Homo sapiens: one gene and its partner. The protein of the gene in region 2 purifies or fractionates together with the protein of the main gene of each other region. This does not show direct contact. Each region holds a gene or a part of one and is shown on either strand. Other genes may lie near its edges.

Region 1 (3,752 bases), on a different chromosome or scaffold from region 2:
GACACGATCTCACCAAGTTGCCCAGACTGGTTCTCAAACTCCTGGCCTCAAGTGATCCTCCTGATTTGATGGCCTCCCAAAGTGACAGGATTATAGGTGTGAGTCACCACACCTGGCCAACATTTTTTTTTTGAGACAGGGTCTTTGCTCTATCACCCAGGCTGGAGTGCAGTGACCCTACCATGAATAGCTTTTCTTAAGGTCTATTTTGTCTATACGTCCCTTCATAGCCATTTTCAGAGTTTTGGCACAAGGAAAAAATAATCAAGTGAAATTCCTTTTTTGTTTGTTTGTTTGAGACAGAGCCTTGCTCTGTCACCCAGGCTGGAGTGCAGTGGCGCGATCTGGGCTCACTACAACCTCCACCTCCTGGGTTCAAGTGATTCTCCTGCCTCAGCCTCCTGAGTAGCTAGGATTACCGGCGCGCGCCACCACGCCTGGCTAATTTTTGTATTTTGAGTAGAGACAGGGTTTCACCATGTTGGTCAGGCTGGTCTCGAACTCCTGACCTCATGATCCACCACCCACCTTGGCCTCCCAAAGTGTTGGGATTACAGGCATGAGCCACCATGCCTGGCCTCAAGTGAAATTCTTTAGGTTTTCCATAATCTATTTTTCGGTTTAGCCTTGAGCAAAATTTTAAAACTTTATAACAAAGTGTATACCTGATAACATAATCCAATAGAATACTTACTACTAATATCTATAATAAAAATCAGAAAGAAAAAGCCCACAGTTTAACAACTTTGTGTTTACATACCCACTTAAATCTAAACTTGGGATTTTATTGGGCTCAAAATGTTTTATAATAGTGATAAGATCAATTACAATAAAATAATATATAAAATTTAAAATATAATTCTCTATTTTTAAAACATAAAATTCTGGTCCTATTTTTAAAACTACTTTTTTTTCTGGGGGTGGGGAGGACAGGGTCTAACTCTGTTACCCAGGCTGGAGTGCAGTGACACAATCACGGCTCACTGCTGCCTCGATCTCCTGGGCTCAAGTAATCCTCCTGCTTCAGCCTCCTGAGAAGCTAGGACTACAGGCATGCATCACCATGTCCAGCTATTTTTTAAAAAATTTCTTTTAGAGATGGGATCTTGCTATGTTGCCCTGGCTGGTCTCAAATTCCTGGACTCAAGTGATCCTCCCGCCTCAGCCTCCCAAAGTGTTGGGATTACAGGTATGAGCCACCCTGCCTTGCCAAAAATTATATTTCATTTTTAAACTCTGCAGGACATTTGATTAGACACTACTTACCCTATAATAAAACCGGGGAATGGTCTTATAGAATTCATTTGTGTTTTTTCTACCTCCTTTCCATTCGGAGTAATATTTTGTAAATAAATCCATTTCTTCATCTTTTAATTCTTGTTCACTTTTTTTTTCTGGTAACAAAACAGATTAAGGGGAGCACTTTTAAAATCAAGCAGTACTTTTACTCAGGTCATCCTATATATTATATTAATAGTTTAATTAAAATAGTTGCAGTGCCAAAAAGGCCTTCACAATTGTGCTTAGACACTGAGCATATTAACTTTTCTGAAATACCAAGAATCACTACCCTCTACTGAAGCAGCCTCCTCTACATCTTCAACCATTTCTCATGCTCCCTCTACTTCTGTTTATCGCTAAAGCTAGTCTCTTCCTCAAATTACCTCTCCTACAGAACTCTGTAGAGTGCTCCTAATTCATTCAATGAAAAGAATTTACTGAGCACCTACTATGTACAGAGAACGCTGTAGTAGACACGGAATGAGGGGTGAGCAAGACAGCCCCAGCCCCTGACCTCATGGAGTTTCAGCCTCATAATCACTGTTTCTCTACCTAATGTAGAGAAAACAAACAAAAAAACTCATCCTCTGTCTGAAGCTCAAAACTCAGGGCTCTATTACCCTGCAACTCGCCTGCTATTGGCACGTGGCTGTCTCATTCAGCCAATTCCTCCCCACTTATTTGTGGACTATGGTGACTGGTACACAGTGTTCTTCACAAGGTCCTGCAATCATTTAGGATGAATAAACATTTATGTGGGTGACCATGGGTCCTGCAACTCCAAAGACTTTCACCTCTAGTTCATTCTGCCATTTGGTTCTATGACAAGATCACAGATTTTACTTGATCCCTTTCTGAAATCTTAAGCTCAAATATACTCTCAGATCATCCTTTCTGGTAATTCAAAACCTCACTGCCATACCATTTCCACTTCAGCCTCACTGAGCTCTTGAATTCTGTGATCTATTTTCTCAAAAGTTATTTTACTCTTTCTGGTCTCATTTCCTTCCCAACAAGCCTGTAATTGTTTCCTTGAATTCCTTTTATGACTGCATTTCTGCTGCATCTGTTAATTTTTTTTTTTTTGGAGATGGAGCTTCACTCTTGTTGCCCAGGCTGGGGCGCAATGGTACGATCTCGGGTCACGGCAACCTCCGCCTCCCAGGTTCAAGGGATTCTCCTGCCTCAGCCTCCTGAGTGGCTGGGATTACGGGCATGTGCCACCACGCCTGGCTAATTTTGTATTTTTAGTAGAGATGGGGCTTCTCCATGTTGGTCAGGCTGGTCTTGAACTCCTGACCTCAGGTGATCTGCCCACCTCGGCCTCCCAAAGTGCTGGGATTACAGGCATGAGCCACCATGCCTGGCCTATTATGTTAATTTTTAACCTTAGACCAAACCTATAAGTTAATTTCTTTACTATGGCTCAGTGCTGTTGTAGAAAACTGCAAAATTTTTCAAGCAAAGTCAAGACTGACAACTGACCACTGAAGTTAACAATATAGCAGTCACTGATGATTCTTGACAAGCAGGAATTCGAGACGAGTACAGATTTAACCAACAACTGTTTTAACAAATATTGCTATAAGGGGAACAGAAAAATGAGGAATGGCTAGAGGTGGAAATTAAGTCAAGAAAGTTTAAGATGGGAGAAATACCAGCATGTTTATATGCTGATGGGAATGATTAAAGAAAAACTGATGATACAGGAGAAGGGACAACTGCAAGAGTACATCCTTCAGCAGGCAAAAATGGAATCTACTACAAAGGATAGGATCTAGTACACTGATGAAGGAACCAGACTTACGCAGGTGCTGTACAACCTATATAATTTACTTATTATTTTATTATTTCTCTCCACACTAAAGTGTAAGTTCTACAAAGACAGAGATTTTTTTGTGTTCTGCTATAAGCTACAACGGTACTTGGCACAAAACAGGCATGCAATAAATATCTGCTAAAAGAATGCAGTGGGTTTAAGAGTTAAGGGGTCAAGAAAGCACACAAAGTACAAGTACAGGTACCTTCCTTTTTTTTTTTTTTTTTTCCGAGACTGAGTCTCACTGTCACCCAGGCTGGAGGGCAGTGGCGCGATCTTGGCTCACTGCAAACTTCACCTCCTGGGTTGAAGTGATTCTCCTGCCTCAGCCTCCTGAGTAGCTGGGATTACAGACACTTGCCACAATGCCCGGCTAAATTTTGTATTTTTAGTAGAGAGAGCGTTTCACCACGTTGGCCAGGCTGGTCTGTCTCCTGACCTCAGGTGATCCACCCACTTCAGCCTCCCAAAGTGCTGGGATTACAGGCATGAGCCACTGCGCCCAGCCAAGTACAGGTAACTTCTTTGAGAAGTTTTCCTATGAAGAGTGCAGAGAAATGCAACAGAAGCTGGAGAGGGATGTGGGATCAAATGACTTTTTTTTTTTTTTTTGAGATGTAGTCTCGTTCTATCGCCCAGGCTGGAGAGCAGT
Region 2 (3,752 bases):
TGGAAAAGGATTTGCCAGTAAGTGCTAGAGAAAAGTAATATACAGAGTGGCATCATGGTTTTTAGCCTGCAAAACTAGAAGGTTGGAAACACGTTAGATGAAGAGTGGCAAGAGCAAGAGTGGATTACACAGACAGGTGGCATGACAGCCTGGAGGCCCCTGTTGCTGTGCTAAGTTAGAGAAGATTGCTAGTGGAAATCCAAAGTAGGCTATTGAGTGTATGCGTTGGGATTGATGGAGAGGTCTGAGCTGGAGATGTAAATTAGGAGTCATCAGTTTGTAGATAATGTGGGGTGTGGGAGACTACAGAGGATCACCAAGGAAGCAGGTCCTGCGCACCTTGAGGCCAGAGCAGGGAGCTAGAAGCAGCAGAGGAGATGGAACCAGGAGAGTGGTGTCTGTGGAGGTGGCGGTAGGGAGGAGTAGCTGTATGATGCCGTTGGATTTAGCCATCTGGAGGTCAGTGATGACCTTGACACAGTTTTGTTGGAATGGGGGTGCGAGGCAGGTTAGAGAATTAGAGTGCATTCAAGACAGACAGGAAAGGATTGTAGATGAAAAATAGTTTTCTGATGAGTTGTAAAAGTGTGCAGAGGAGCAGGGTGGTGGCTGGAGGGGCAGGATTTAGGGCTGAAAAACGTGTTTAGGTGGGAGAAATAACAGCATGTATGCTGACGAGAGCTGTTCAGCTTTAAAGATGGAAGAATTAATGATGTAAGGGAGTGAGAGGAGAACTGGAGGGCTGCGCAGCAGTGGAATCCCATGCAGGGGCTTGTGTTTGCTGGAAAAGTGGAGAGCGTGTGGGTCTCATTGTAGGCAGGGGGTGGATATGATGGTGGCACCTGTGCAAGCTGTCACCTGAGTTCATAGTTGAGTGAGGATGGAGGACGGAGGTTGGAGATAAGAGGAGAGTGGAGAAAGCATGAAATCTTTCTATAAGAAAGTAAGGCGAGAAGGCACTGTGGAAACCCGGAGGGTTGTTGGGCAGTTTTAAAGGTCCCCTTGAGGTTAGTGGTCATGACTTTAAGGGGAGTTCATCAGCATGGCTGTTAGTGGCTTCTGTAAGCAATATTAAATCTGAGAGGTGGCACTTATTTGCTAGTAAACTCCTGTATTGTCCCTTGGCTGCATGTCTGGGTAATGGAAAAGGGCTTCCGAAAAAAATCACAGTGAAGAGGTCAATTTAGTTTATATCAAACAGAATTCTAAAGAGAGGTGAGCTGATTTCTTACGCCCTGGCTGTGCCGATTGTGGTTGATCTGTAGTTTGCACTCCCTTGGTGTACTTTATGGTTTTGAATCTTTAAAGTGTATATTCTTGATTTCCAGCCACCACACGTATAAAATATCTTTAAGTTGCTTTTGTTTCTGTGGCAGAATAAAAGTGTTTAGTGGCAGAACATAAGAGCACCGATTAACTGTCCTTGTTTCTTGTTAGGAGGAAGGAACCTAGGAAGCAAGCAGGAAGTCTGGCCTCGCTCTCGGATGCACCCCCCTTAAAAAGTGGACTCAGCTCCCTGGCGGGAGCCCCTTCTTTAAAAGACTCTGAGAGTAAGTGCCCAAAGATGTGGACTTCAATACTCGGGATATTTTTTCTCTAATTAAATACTATGTGATTATTGTTGATTTTTTTTCCCAGGAAAATCACTAAAATAACCTATCATTTTATCACTCAGAGATATTTCCTGTTAATATTTTGTTGTGTTTTGTTACTTCTAAGGTGGTCCTATTTTATATGTTGTTTTGTATTCTGGCCCTTCCTATACCTATATACCATCGGAATACTTTTGGGAAGTTGACTTTTTAGCTGATTTTTATTATCTATAGAAATAAAATTTTTAAATCATCTCTCCTTTTTTGGACATTTACAATGACTTGAGTTGGATTTGCTTTCAATTAATTTTTAAAAATTTGGTGATACCACAGTAAGTATCATAAAATGTTAAATAAAAAATTATTCTGCAGATCATTTTCAAGAACAGTGACCTGACATGTCATCGTAAATGCAGCAGAGCTAAAGAGCACTGGTTACACATGGAATAGTCTAGCTCTGGCACCAGTTACTTTCCCACCTCTCCCCACACACAGTGATAGGAATTTAAAAAGCATAGCCCTGAACATGTAGGATGGGCAGAGGTCCTTTGGAAACCGTATCATAGTAAATGTTGTATTTAATTAGCGTAGTGTTTCAGAGCACGTGTACCTCTTTTGAGAAAGTTTCCTAAAGTAGATTCACTAAGAATTTGCAGTATGCGTTTTGCATAATTGTCCAGTATTTCCGAATCTTTTTGTATTGCTTGATATACTGTGGGACTTCCTAGGGCACATAAGAGAGCCGGCCTGTTGCTTCTCTTAAACCAGCCATGTATTTATAATGTCCGCATCCCTTCCCATTTGCTTCTTTCCCGTGGTTACTGCCACCTTTAAGAAAGGAATCCAGGACATCATGAACATGTCATTCTGACATTGATTAGAGAATGATCATTTAGAGAGGACGTTGAGAACAAAGGACTAAAAAACCAGTGAGGATGTCACTTTAGTAAGTGAAATAGCAGTTGCACTGAAGAAAAATTTAGAAATTCAAAGGAAAAATAAGACTCATGAAAATAATTAACAGTCTATGAATTCATACCTAACAGGGCTGTTTATGGAAAGTGATGTCTTATAATGAGGCAAAAAATGGTTTTTGGTGGTTGTGTTCCAATAAAGTAGTATTGTTTATGGTTTAAAAAGGGATGTAGCTGGGTGCAGTGGCTCACGCCTGTAATACCAGCACTTTGGGAGGCCGAGGTGGGTGGATCACGAGGTCAGGAGTTCGAGACCAGCCTATCCAACATAGGGAAACCCTGTCTCTACTAAAAATACAAAAATTAGCTGGGTGTGGTAGCACATGCCTGTAGTCCCAGCTACTCGGGAGGCTGAGGCGGGAGAATCGCTTGAACCCAGAAGGCAGAGGTTGCAGTGAGCTGAGACCGCGCCATTGCACTCCAGCCTGAGTGACAGTGATGAGACTCCGTCTCAAAAAAAGGGTTGTGATGCATAGCTTAAGCGTTCATTAATCACAGTTTATTTTTTCCTTAGTTTTAGGTTATTATGCTCCTGTCATAAAGAAGCCCCATATTGAACAACGACAAAAATTGATGTGGTTTAGAGACTGTTATATTCTAAGTCACTCTAATGTTAATATTTTCTCCTGTTCACAGGTAAAAGGGGAAATACAGTTTTGAAAGATCTGAAATTGATCAGTGATAAAATTGGATCACTTGGATTAGGTAATTAGATTTCTAGTTTTTGTGCTGATCGTTTTAAAGTGATTATTTTTAGGGTAAGGCTGTAAAAGAAGTGACTCCGTCTGCCTACGCTGAGCACCTTCCTGCTGCTGCTCATTCAGCAGGTGTTTGAATGGCTTTTATGTGTTCAGGATTACACGCTATGCGAGAGATGGCTACAGCAACAGCCATCATGTTCTCGTGAACCTCTGTCTTCATGGAGTTTAAATTCTGGTCAGGAATATGAACATTAAACGGGCATCTACAGATATTTTGACTGTAAAAGGGTCAGTATATATGGGTATAGAAATGGCTAGTAGGTTACCTTTGTCCAGTCTTGGCATTCAGGGAAGACTTCTTATAAGAAGTGACTTCTGTGCAGAAGCTTCATGGTTAAGTACATGTATAAGAGAGAAGGGAAGATATTTCAGTTCAGACTGAGAAAAATTTGGGCAGAGGCAGAGCCATTTGCTAGATGCTGGTA

The links. The genes of interacting proteins can lie anywhere in the genome.
Region 1: the proteins of CEP43 (region 2) and PPP2R3C purify together in Homo sapiens (affinity purification with mass spectrometry; 5 studies listed by BioGRID and IntAct, with this or other methods). This does not show direct contact.

What each region holds. Positions count from the first base shown.
Region 1 is NC_000014.9:35,115,344-35,119,095, forward strand, and holds part of PPP2R3C (serine/threonine-protein phosphatase 2A regulatory subunit B'' subunit gamma), read right to left. Parts: intron 1,395-3,752; coding exon 1,267-1,394; intron 1-1,266. UniProt on the Homo sapiens protein: May regulate MCM3AP phosphorylation through phosphatase recruitment. May act as a negative regulator of ABCB1 expression and function through the dephosphorylation of ABCB1 by TFPI2/PPP2R3C complex.
Region 2 is NC_000006.12:167,023,345-167,027,096, forward strand, and holds part of CEP43 (centrosomal protein 43), read left to right. Parts: intron 1-1,437; coding exon 1,438-1,550; intron 1,551-3,202; coding exon 3,203-3,271; intron 3,272-3,752. UniProt on the Homo sapiens protein: Required for anchoring microtubules to the centrosomes. Required for ciliation.